2 linked regions of the Homo sapiens genome follow. The protein of the gene in region 2 purifies or fractionates together with the protein of the main gene of each other region. This does not show direct contact. Each region holds a gene or a part of one and is shown on either strand. Other genes may lie near its edges.

What was found. The genes of interacting proteins can lie anywhere in the genome.
Region 1: the proteins of ZBTB43 (region 2) and SPINDOC purify together in Homo sapiens (affinity purification with mass spectrometry; one large-scale study listed by BioGRID and IntAct). This does not show direct contact.

Annotation. Positions count from the first base shown.
Region 1 is NC_000011.10:63,811,860-63,816,659, forward strand, and holds the start of SPINDOC (spindlin interactor and repressor of chromatin-binding protein), read left to right. Parts: upstream 1-1,596; 5' UTR 1,597-1,827; coding exon 1,828-1,954; intron 1,955-4,800. UniProt on the Homo sapiens protein: Chromatin protein that stabilizes SPIN1 and enhances its association with histone H3 trimethylated at both 'Lys-4' and 'Lys-9' (H3K4me3K9me3).
Region 2 is NC_000009.12:126,808,040-126,811,539, forward strand, and holds part of ZBTB43 (zinc finger and BTB domain-containing protein 43), read left to right. Parts: intron 1-57; exon of another isoform or gene 58-153; intron 154-753; 5' UTR 754-876; intron 877-3,500. UniProt on the Homo sapiens protein: May be involved in transcriptional regulation.

The sequences.
Region 1 (4,800 bases), on a different chromosome or scaffold from region 2:
TCATCTGCTGCTGGAGATGTCACCTGAGCCTGAGCAAGAGAGAGAAAGAGAAGAAATACCATGGCTCTTTCTTTCCTCCTGCCTTCTCTTCTCCTGCCACTGCCTCCCATTGGCTAAACCGAGGCCTGAAGCCAGATGCTCTGGGAGCCTGAGAAACTGCCCCCCGCAAGACTCAGCCCACTGCAATACAGAGCAGAGCAGAGGGGCACGGAAGGGATCTGTAGCAAATGGTAGAGAATGACCATTCAGCAGAAATAGTTAAACAGGCTTGGTAATACCTTTGTTGTAAAACCTTTAAAATATCAGATACACTTGCACATAACAAAATAATTCCCTTAAAAATAGACTGCAAGGCCAGGCGCGGTGGCTCACGCCTGTAATCCCACTTTGGGAGGCCGAGGCAGACGGATGATGAGGTCAAGAGATCAAGACCATCCTGGCCAACATGCTGAAACCCCGTCTCTACTAAAAATACAAAAATTAGCCGGGCATGGTGGCACGTGCCTGTAGTCCCAGCTACCCAGGAGGCTGAGGCGGGAGAATAGCTTGAACCTGGGAGGCGGAGGTTGTGGTGAGCCGAGATAGCGCCACTGCACTCCAGCCTGGTGACAGAGCGAGACTCTGTCTCAAAAAAAAAAAAATTAAAAAATTGACTGCAATCCATATAGACTAGTTCACACCTCTTCTCACACCCCCATCCTACTACGCGATTCTGAATACTACTGTGTCTGGTCTGATATAACGACATTCGAAGATGGATTTTCAGTGTCAGACATTTTGCATTTTCTGAGCTGAAATCTCATGAGGGTTGCTATAGAAGAGGGAGATGCACATTCCATGTCACAGAAGTAAAAGCTCACCCAGAGTGTGGTTATAGGGCAGCAATGTCATGGCAACTGGACTCTGGTCTTGGGGCTCTCAAGGGATTGCTGTGTGTCCTTGGAGAGGGTCACAAAATCTCCGGACTCCCGTGCCAAAAATGGAAATCATACCCATCAGGGTGGTTTATGTCCGCTCACAGTCCACTCTGCTTCTCTTCTTTGCCTTCCCAGAAGGGTCCAAAATGGTTTTTGAAAGAAACGATGAGCCGGACTAAGAAAACAGATAATGTGCCCACGGCCACGGAGCTGGCAGATGAGAAGGAATTCGGTCTCTGCGTTTCCATACCAAGGCCCTTTCCACTCACCCACCGCTTCTCTTCCTGCCCGGGGCATCTGCTGGCGGAGGAAGGCTTGTCCACGGAAAGGCAAAAGCGACTCCCGATCAAAATCCGGGGGCACCTGGTAGCGCTCTCCACGCCAGCAGAAACGCCCAACTGACTTCTTAATGGAGGGAAACCCCGGGCTTGGCCCGCAGACTGAGGGGCCCGCGTTGCGGGTTTTGGGGGCCCCTCTGCCTCTGCGCACCGGGTGGCCCCGGGTCCCCTCGGCCCTTCCCGCCGCCTCCCGGGTCCAGGGTTTCTAACGGGGCCGCGTGCCCGGGGCGGGGCCACGCGCGATTGGCCGCGCGGCATCGGGGGCGGGTCCGCGGCTGGCCGGCCGGGCGGGCGCCGACAATGAGCCTCCATAAAAGGGAGCGGCGGGGGGCAGGGGCCCCGGATTGAGCCCTCCCCGCCCGGGCTCCCGACGCGCCGAGGTCTCGGGGAGGCCCGGACGCGCCGGTCGCAGGCCCGGCCGGCGAGCGGCGGGCGGGCGGCGGGGAGGGGGCTGCGCGGGGCGGGCGGCGGGCCCGGCGCTATTCCGGCCAGGAGGCGGGAGGCGGTTGCCGGCTGCGCGCCGAAGCCTGCGCGCCAGTCCTCCGGCCACTGCTATCGCCCACGGCCGCACCATGGCCCTAAAGGCCGAGGGCGCCGCACTCGACTGCTTCGAGGTGACGCTGAAATGCGAGGAAGGGGAGGACGAGGAGGAGGCCATGGTGGTGGCCGTAATTCCGCGGCCCGAGCCGATGCTCAGAGGTGAGGATGGAGGGGATTCCACTTCCGCGTCACGGTGCGGGGCCGGGGCTGGGGCCGTCCCTCCCCAGTCGGGGTCCGGGACCCGGGCACCTTCTCACCCCCTTCAGCCTTGGGGCCCAGGTTTCCCTCTCGGATCTGGGTCCAGGGCGCGCTCTTGCACCTCCCCCACCATGGTTTAGAAGCTCAGGCCTCCTCGATTTCCCCCTCCCTTCCCCTTTCCCCCGCCCAGGGTCTGGAGACTTCGATCCACGCCCCGCACGCTCCGGATCTTCCGGTGCCCAAGCGCCCCCTCTCCCGGGCCCAGCACCAGAGGCCGGATCCCCAGAGGCGCTGGGTGGTTGCGGCCGCCGTCTCACAGCCTGGGAAGGGGAGGCAAGCACAACGGCCGGGCTGTGTTCTAGTCCGAGGGGCGGCGAAGCCTCTAGGCCGGAGGCTACAGGCGGGCGCCGCTGCCGACCTCCAGGAGAATTTTAAGGGCTCTCCGAGCATAACGCTTCCCTGCCCACCACCCCGCTTCATTCCCATTCCCGGGCCTTCCACTTGCAGGAGCCACAGGTGTCAAGTTCTGGAGAGAAGGGATGAATGGGACTGCATACAACAGCTAGTTTGGAAAAGCAGTGCAGTGCTAGAACGAGATTAGCTTTGGGAGGGGATGGGAGGAACAATCTCAGAACACTCGCTCTCCCCTCCCCCTTCACCGATTTCTAGTCCTCAGGAGCTTGCAAACCGTAAGAAAACAAAGAGCCATCTTTGTGGGAGACTTAATATGCATGAAAATGCAAATATATTTCCATTCTCCCACCCCGCTTTTCTTAGGCGGGATAGTACCCAAAAGAGGTTGAGAGCAGCAATGCCATTCATTGAACTTCAGCCGAACAGAATGATGTCTGCCTGCACTGCCTGTCATCCTTTTTGGAACTGGAAGGGTTATAAAATTCATGAGGGAAATAAAGGTCACCTCCCTTCTCGGAGCATTTAGTCCAAAAGATAGGTTGTTTTCCTACTTCTGCTAATATTTGTTGAGTGTTCATTGGGCATTGTCAGAGGCTGTCTCAGTTAATCCTCTCAACCCTGCAAGGGTGGCCTTATCCCCACTGTTAGGGCAGGAATAGACAGGTGAATTCATTCAACCAATATTCACTGGACGTCTACTTTAGGCTGTTTAGGCTAGTGTTTTTAGGCTGGGAAGTAGTAGTAAACAGAGCAACCGAAACCCTGCTCTTGAAGAACATATATATACCAATGGCTAAAGACAGAGAAATAGGTTCATGTATAGTATGTTGGGTGGCAATAAATGGTTCAGAGATCACTAAAGCAGGAAAAGGAGAAAGAGGAGGAATGGGTATTTAATTGAATATATCGAGTGGTTCAGAAAGGGTTTTCTAATAAGGTGAATTTTGAGCACAGACCCGAAGGAAGTGAGGATGCCAACCTTGCAGATATCTGCAGGAAGAGCATTTCAGGCCGAATAGCAAGTGCAAAGGTCCGGCAGCACAAGCTTCTGGAAAGATTTCGGTGGAGAGAGGAAGAAAGATTGAATTCAAGGTTTTTGGCCTGAGCAACTGGAGGAAGAGCCTTCCCATTTTCCGAGATGGGGAAGGCTGCGGTGCTCTTGGGAGACTGGGAGTGAAAGTTTGAATATGATTACGTTTGAGATGCCTATTTATGACATATTCAGGTGGAGAGGTCAACTAAGCAGTCAGATACATGGGCCTAGATTTCCTGGAAGTATCTAGCTAGTGGCGTAAACAGAAATTGCCAGCAGGCAGACAGTGGGAAGAGAAGGAAGTAGAGAAGTGTCTAAGGACTGAGTCCTGGGAAACTCCAGTGATGGCAGGTTGGAGACCGAGTCAGTCCCTCATCACACATTACTAAATGCCACTGCATGCGAGGAGATACAGATACAGATGCTGGAGATACAGATGCAAAACATCAGAAATCTGTATGGTCATGGATTTTTTTTTTTTTTTTGAGACGGAGTTTTGCTCTTTTTGCCCAAGCTGTAGTGCAATGGCACAATCTCGGCTCACTGCAACCTTCGCCTCCCGGGTTCAAGTGATTCTTCTGCCTCAACCTCCCGAGTAACTGGGATTATAGGCATGTGCCACCACGCCCAGCTAATTTTGTATTTTTAATAGAGATAGGGTTTCCCCATGTTGGTGGGGTTGGTCTTGAACTCTCAACCTCAGGTGATCCGCCCACCTCGGCCTCCCAAAGTGCTAGGATTCAGGCGTGAGCCACCGCACCTGGCCGTGGTCATGGATGCTATGGTGTGGTAAGGAGACAGGCAGTGAACATCCCAAAAACAAGTGCCAGGTGGTGATGTGTGCTGTGTTGGAGGTGATGCATAAGGGGAATGGGGTGCTCTAGTGAGGGGAGATGGTCTTCAGCAACAAGCCAGAGGAAGGGAGGGAATATTGAGAAGAGATGAGGAAGAACTAGCACACATAACTGAGAAAGAGGGCCAGGGAAGCAAAAGAAGAACCAACAGAAGGTCATGCCCTAGACGCAAGTGATGAAAATCAAGATGGAAGAGGTGATCGGCAGAGGATGAAGTTGAGAAACTGACCGCAGAGTTTAGCACTGCTGACTTGGATGAGAGCTGTTTTGGAAGACTAGTAGGGAAGAAAGCTGATTGCAACTGAGAGGTCATTTCTGCCCATGGTCGCATGAGAGATAGGTACAAGACATATCTCGTATCTCTTTCAGACACCACCTCTTGTATCCATGCAAGCCGAGGCTCCTATTTCTCATACCACCTCTTCCATGCAGCCCCCAGGTATTAGGGCCTCCTGTGTTTTAATTTTGTCCCATCCTCTCTGGAAGGTAGGAGGGAGATGCAGCCG
Region 2 (3,500 bases):
ATGTTGTTAATTTCTTGAAATGAGTACTGTTTCTGCCTTCTGCTTTCTTGATTTCAGCTTCTTATCCTGAATTCTAATGCACGTGAGGGTACAGTTAAAAACATTTCCTTGGCTTTATTGAAATTCAATGGAAGGATGATCGATAAATGGGGGGTTAGTTTCTAGAACGTTACCTTCTCTTTTGAATCTCAGAGAGTTTGCTGTAATAGAATGTTTGTCCTAGAAGTTTTTAAGTAAAACATTCAGCCGTGGCTTAAAATTGAAGGGAATCATGAATCAAACTTCATAAAGCAGGTGGCTTGTTTTTTTAAAAAACATCTTAAAATAGTTTTTACTAAGTGATTTGGCCAAAGTGTTCTAATTAGGAAAAAAATGGAAGAATACTGATTGACAATGGTCAGGAGACCAATAGCACTGTTCCAAAGGATATATTAATTCTGCAAAATTACATAGTCATTGACCATGTTTTCTAGTTTTAATGAATATGCCACAGTAATGGATGAGAGGTATATGGGAGTTATGCACTATCTTTTCAGTTTTTTTGAAAATTTAAAATTATTACAAAATAAGTTTGTTTTTTTAAAAAATACAAAAGCAGGAGCTATGAAGTTGCAGAATGGAATTTAATATAACCAAAAATGCCAGTCTTGATTACTTTTCTTTCTGCCGCTAATGTACATCTCTAGTGTTTATTAGCAAATACACGTGTACATAGCATCTCTTTTACATTTTCACTGTTACTCTTCCTTCCAGAAGTCAATGTGATTTTAATTTGAAGCAAAACTGAAATGGGTTCTTCTTCCTCATTCTATTCATGTTGCTTTTTGATGGCCATGGCATAAGGAACTCTATCCCAGGAATACAGCTTTGCATTAGGTAAGCTATCAACTTGATCACGATACCATTTTTAAAGTTACTTACTGTAATCATTTCTCTTTTAGCAAAAATAATAATGTATTTTGTTAAGATTTTTAATTCCTCTAGACCAGAAGATTCTTTCTTCTCTTCTGAAGAGATGTTACACCTTCTAAGGCCCATCAATGCCATACTTTGCACTGATAGAACATTTAATGTCAGATAAATTTTTCTGCCAAGTGAATTTTTTTTCTTAACTTAGAAAAATGTTAGATTTGGAGTTATACTGCTGTTTGAATGCTGACATGCCATTTCTGAGACGTGTAACCACTGGCAGGTCTTTTAATTTGAGCTTCAGTTTACTCATATTTCAAAAGGATGCAATGATACGGGAGTGTTGCACAACGCAGGTTTACATAGTGTGCTTTGTGAACTCTAAAGCATTTCACTAATGTAAAGAGTAGGCATAGGGTATTGGTGTTTTTGTACATTTGTGCCAGGCTTTAAATTTACTGAAGCAACATTTACTATGTTTAAATATGCTTTCTATAGTAAGCATGCAAGTTACCATATGCTCTGATTAAAGAAACCTCTGAAGGACTTCACAATAAGTAGCTGGTGGGTCTGCTTCCCTATTATATTGCTGTCATCTGTGTTTTTAGGATGTTTAATAGGTGTTTAAATCACGTATAAAATTTGACTTGGAGTTCCTCAGCCGAATAATAAATAGTGGCTGTTATTAAACTCATCAAAGTTGGAAGGAATCTTGAAGGTCATCTAGTTCAGGATTTCTTCAGTATGTTGCCCTTCATCTGCGTTAAAAAAAGCCAAATAGCTTTTAAGAAGCATAGTGGAACAGGCTGGCATCGGTGTGTTTGTTTTAGAACTGTTGCTATTGGATTAAAAAAATAAAATACATGTGCAAAGTGGCATAAAACTGCTGGTATCTTTTTTTTTTTGAGACAGAGTCTCGCTTTGTCGCCCAGGCTAGAGTGCAGTGGCAGGATCTCAGCTCACTGCAAGCTCCACCTCCCAGGCTCAAGCAGTTCTCTGCCTCAGCCTTCAGAGTAGCTGGGATTACAGGTGCCGGCCACCACACCCGGCTAATTTTTTTGTATTTTTAGTAGAGATGGGGTTTCACCATCTTGGCCAGACTGGTCTTGAACTCCTGACCTTGTGATCCACGGGCCTCAGCCTCCCAAAGTGCTGGGATTACAGACGTGAGCCACCGCGCCCGGCCCACTAACTGCTGGTATCTTATTAAGGTTTTTGTTTGTTTGTTCATTTGTTTGTTTATTTGTTTGTTTGTTTGTTTTTGAGATGGAGTCTCGCTCTTGTTGCCCAGGCTGGAGTGCAGTGGCAGAATCTCCGCTCACTGCAACCTCTGCCTCCCAGGTTCAAGAGATTTTCCTTCCTCAGCCTCCTGAGTAGCTGGGATTACAGGCATCTGTCAGCATGCCCAGCTAATTTTGTATTTTTAGTAGAGACAGGGTTTCGCCTTCTTGGCCAGGCCAGTCTCAAACTCCTGACCACAGGTGATCCACCGTCTCGTGCTCCCAAAGTGCTGGGATTACAGGCATGAGCCACTGTGCCCAGCCGTCTTTTTTTTTTTTTTTTTTTTTTTTGAGATGGGGTCTCGCTCTGTCACACAGGCTGGAGCGCGTGGCGAGATCTTGGCTCACTGCGACCTCTGCCTCCCGGGTTCAAGTGATTCTCCTGCCTCAGCCTCCCAGGTAGCTGGGACTACAGGCATGGGCCACCATGCACAGCTAATTTTTTTTTGTACTTTTAGTAGAGAAGGGGTTTCACCATGTTGGCCAGGATGGTCTCCATCTTTTGACCTGGTGATCCGCCCGCCTCGGCCTCCCAAAGTACTGGGATTACAGGAGTGAGCCACCATGCCTGGCTTGGGCCATCTTAAGTCTAAGGATGGTCAGCGTGCGAAAGTTTGTGAATGCATTGTATATAATAAAATTATATAGATTATTTGTGAAAATGATATTCACGTTTACTTTCCATACTCTGAAACTATAGTGATATTCACAGCCAGGCACGATGGCTCATGCCTGTAATCCCAGCACTTTGGGAGGCCAAGGTGGGCAGATCACATGAGGGTCAGGAGTTCGAGACCAACCTGGCCAACATGGTGAAACCCCATCTCTACTAAAAACACAAAAATTAGCTGGGCGTGGTGTCACGCACCTGTGGTCTCAGCTACTCAGGAGGCTGAGGCAGGAGAATCGCTTGAACCTGGGAGGCGGAGGTTACAGTGAGCTGAAGTGGCACCACTGCCCTCCAGCCTGGGCGACAGAGACTCCATCTCAAAAAAAAAAAAAAAAAGAAGAAAAAATTATATTCACCTTTTCTTTCCACCTCTTAAGCTATAGTGGGCCTGAACAAGTACTTTGGATTTAAATCTCAATTTTACTGCTTACCAGTTATATGACCTTAAGTTGCTTAGCTTTTTTGTCTATCTCCAATTCTGTACAATGGAAGTAAAAAATACCTATTGAGTGGGTTGCTGTGAAGATTAAGTGAGACAGAGCATATAAAGTGCTTTGCATAGACTTTGTACAATGTCTGTATTAAGCAGTTTATATATTTGTATATGTATGTCATAAATAGTAGTTGCTGTTATTTCCTAT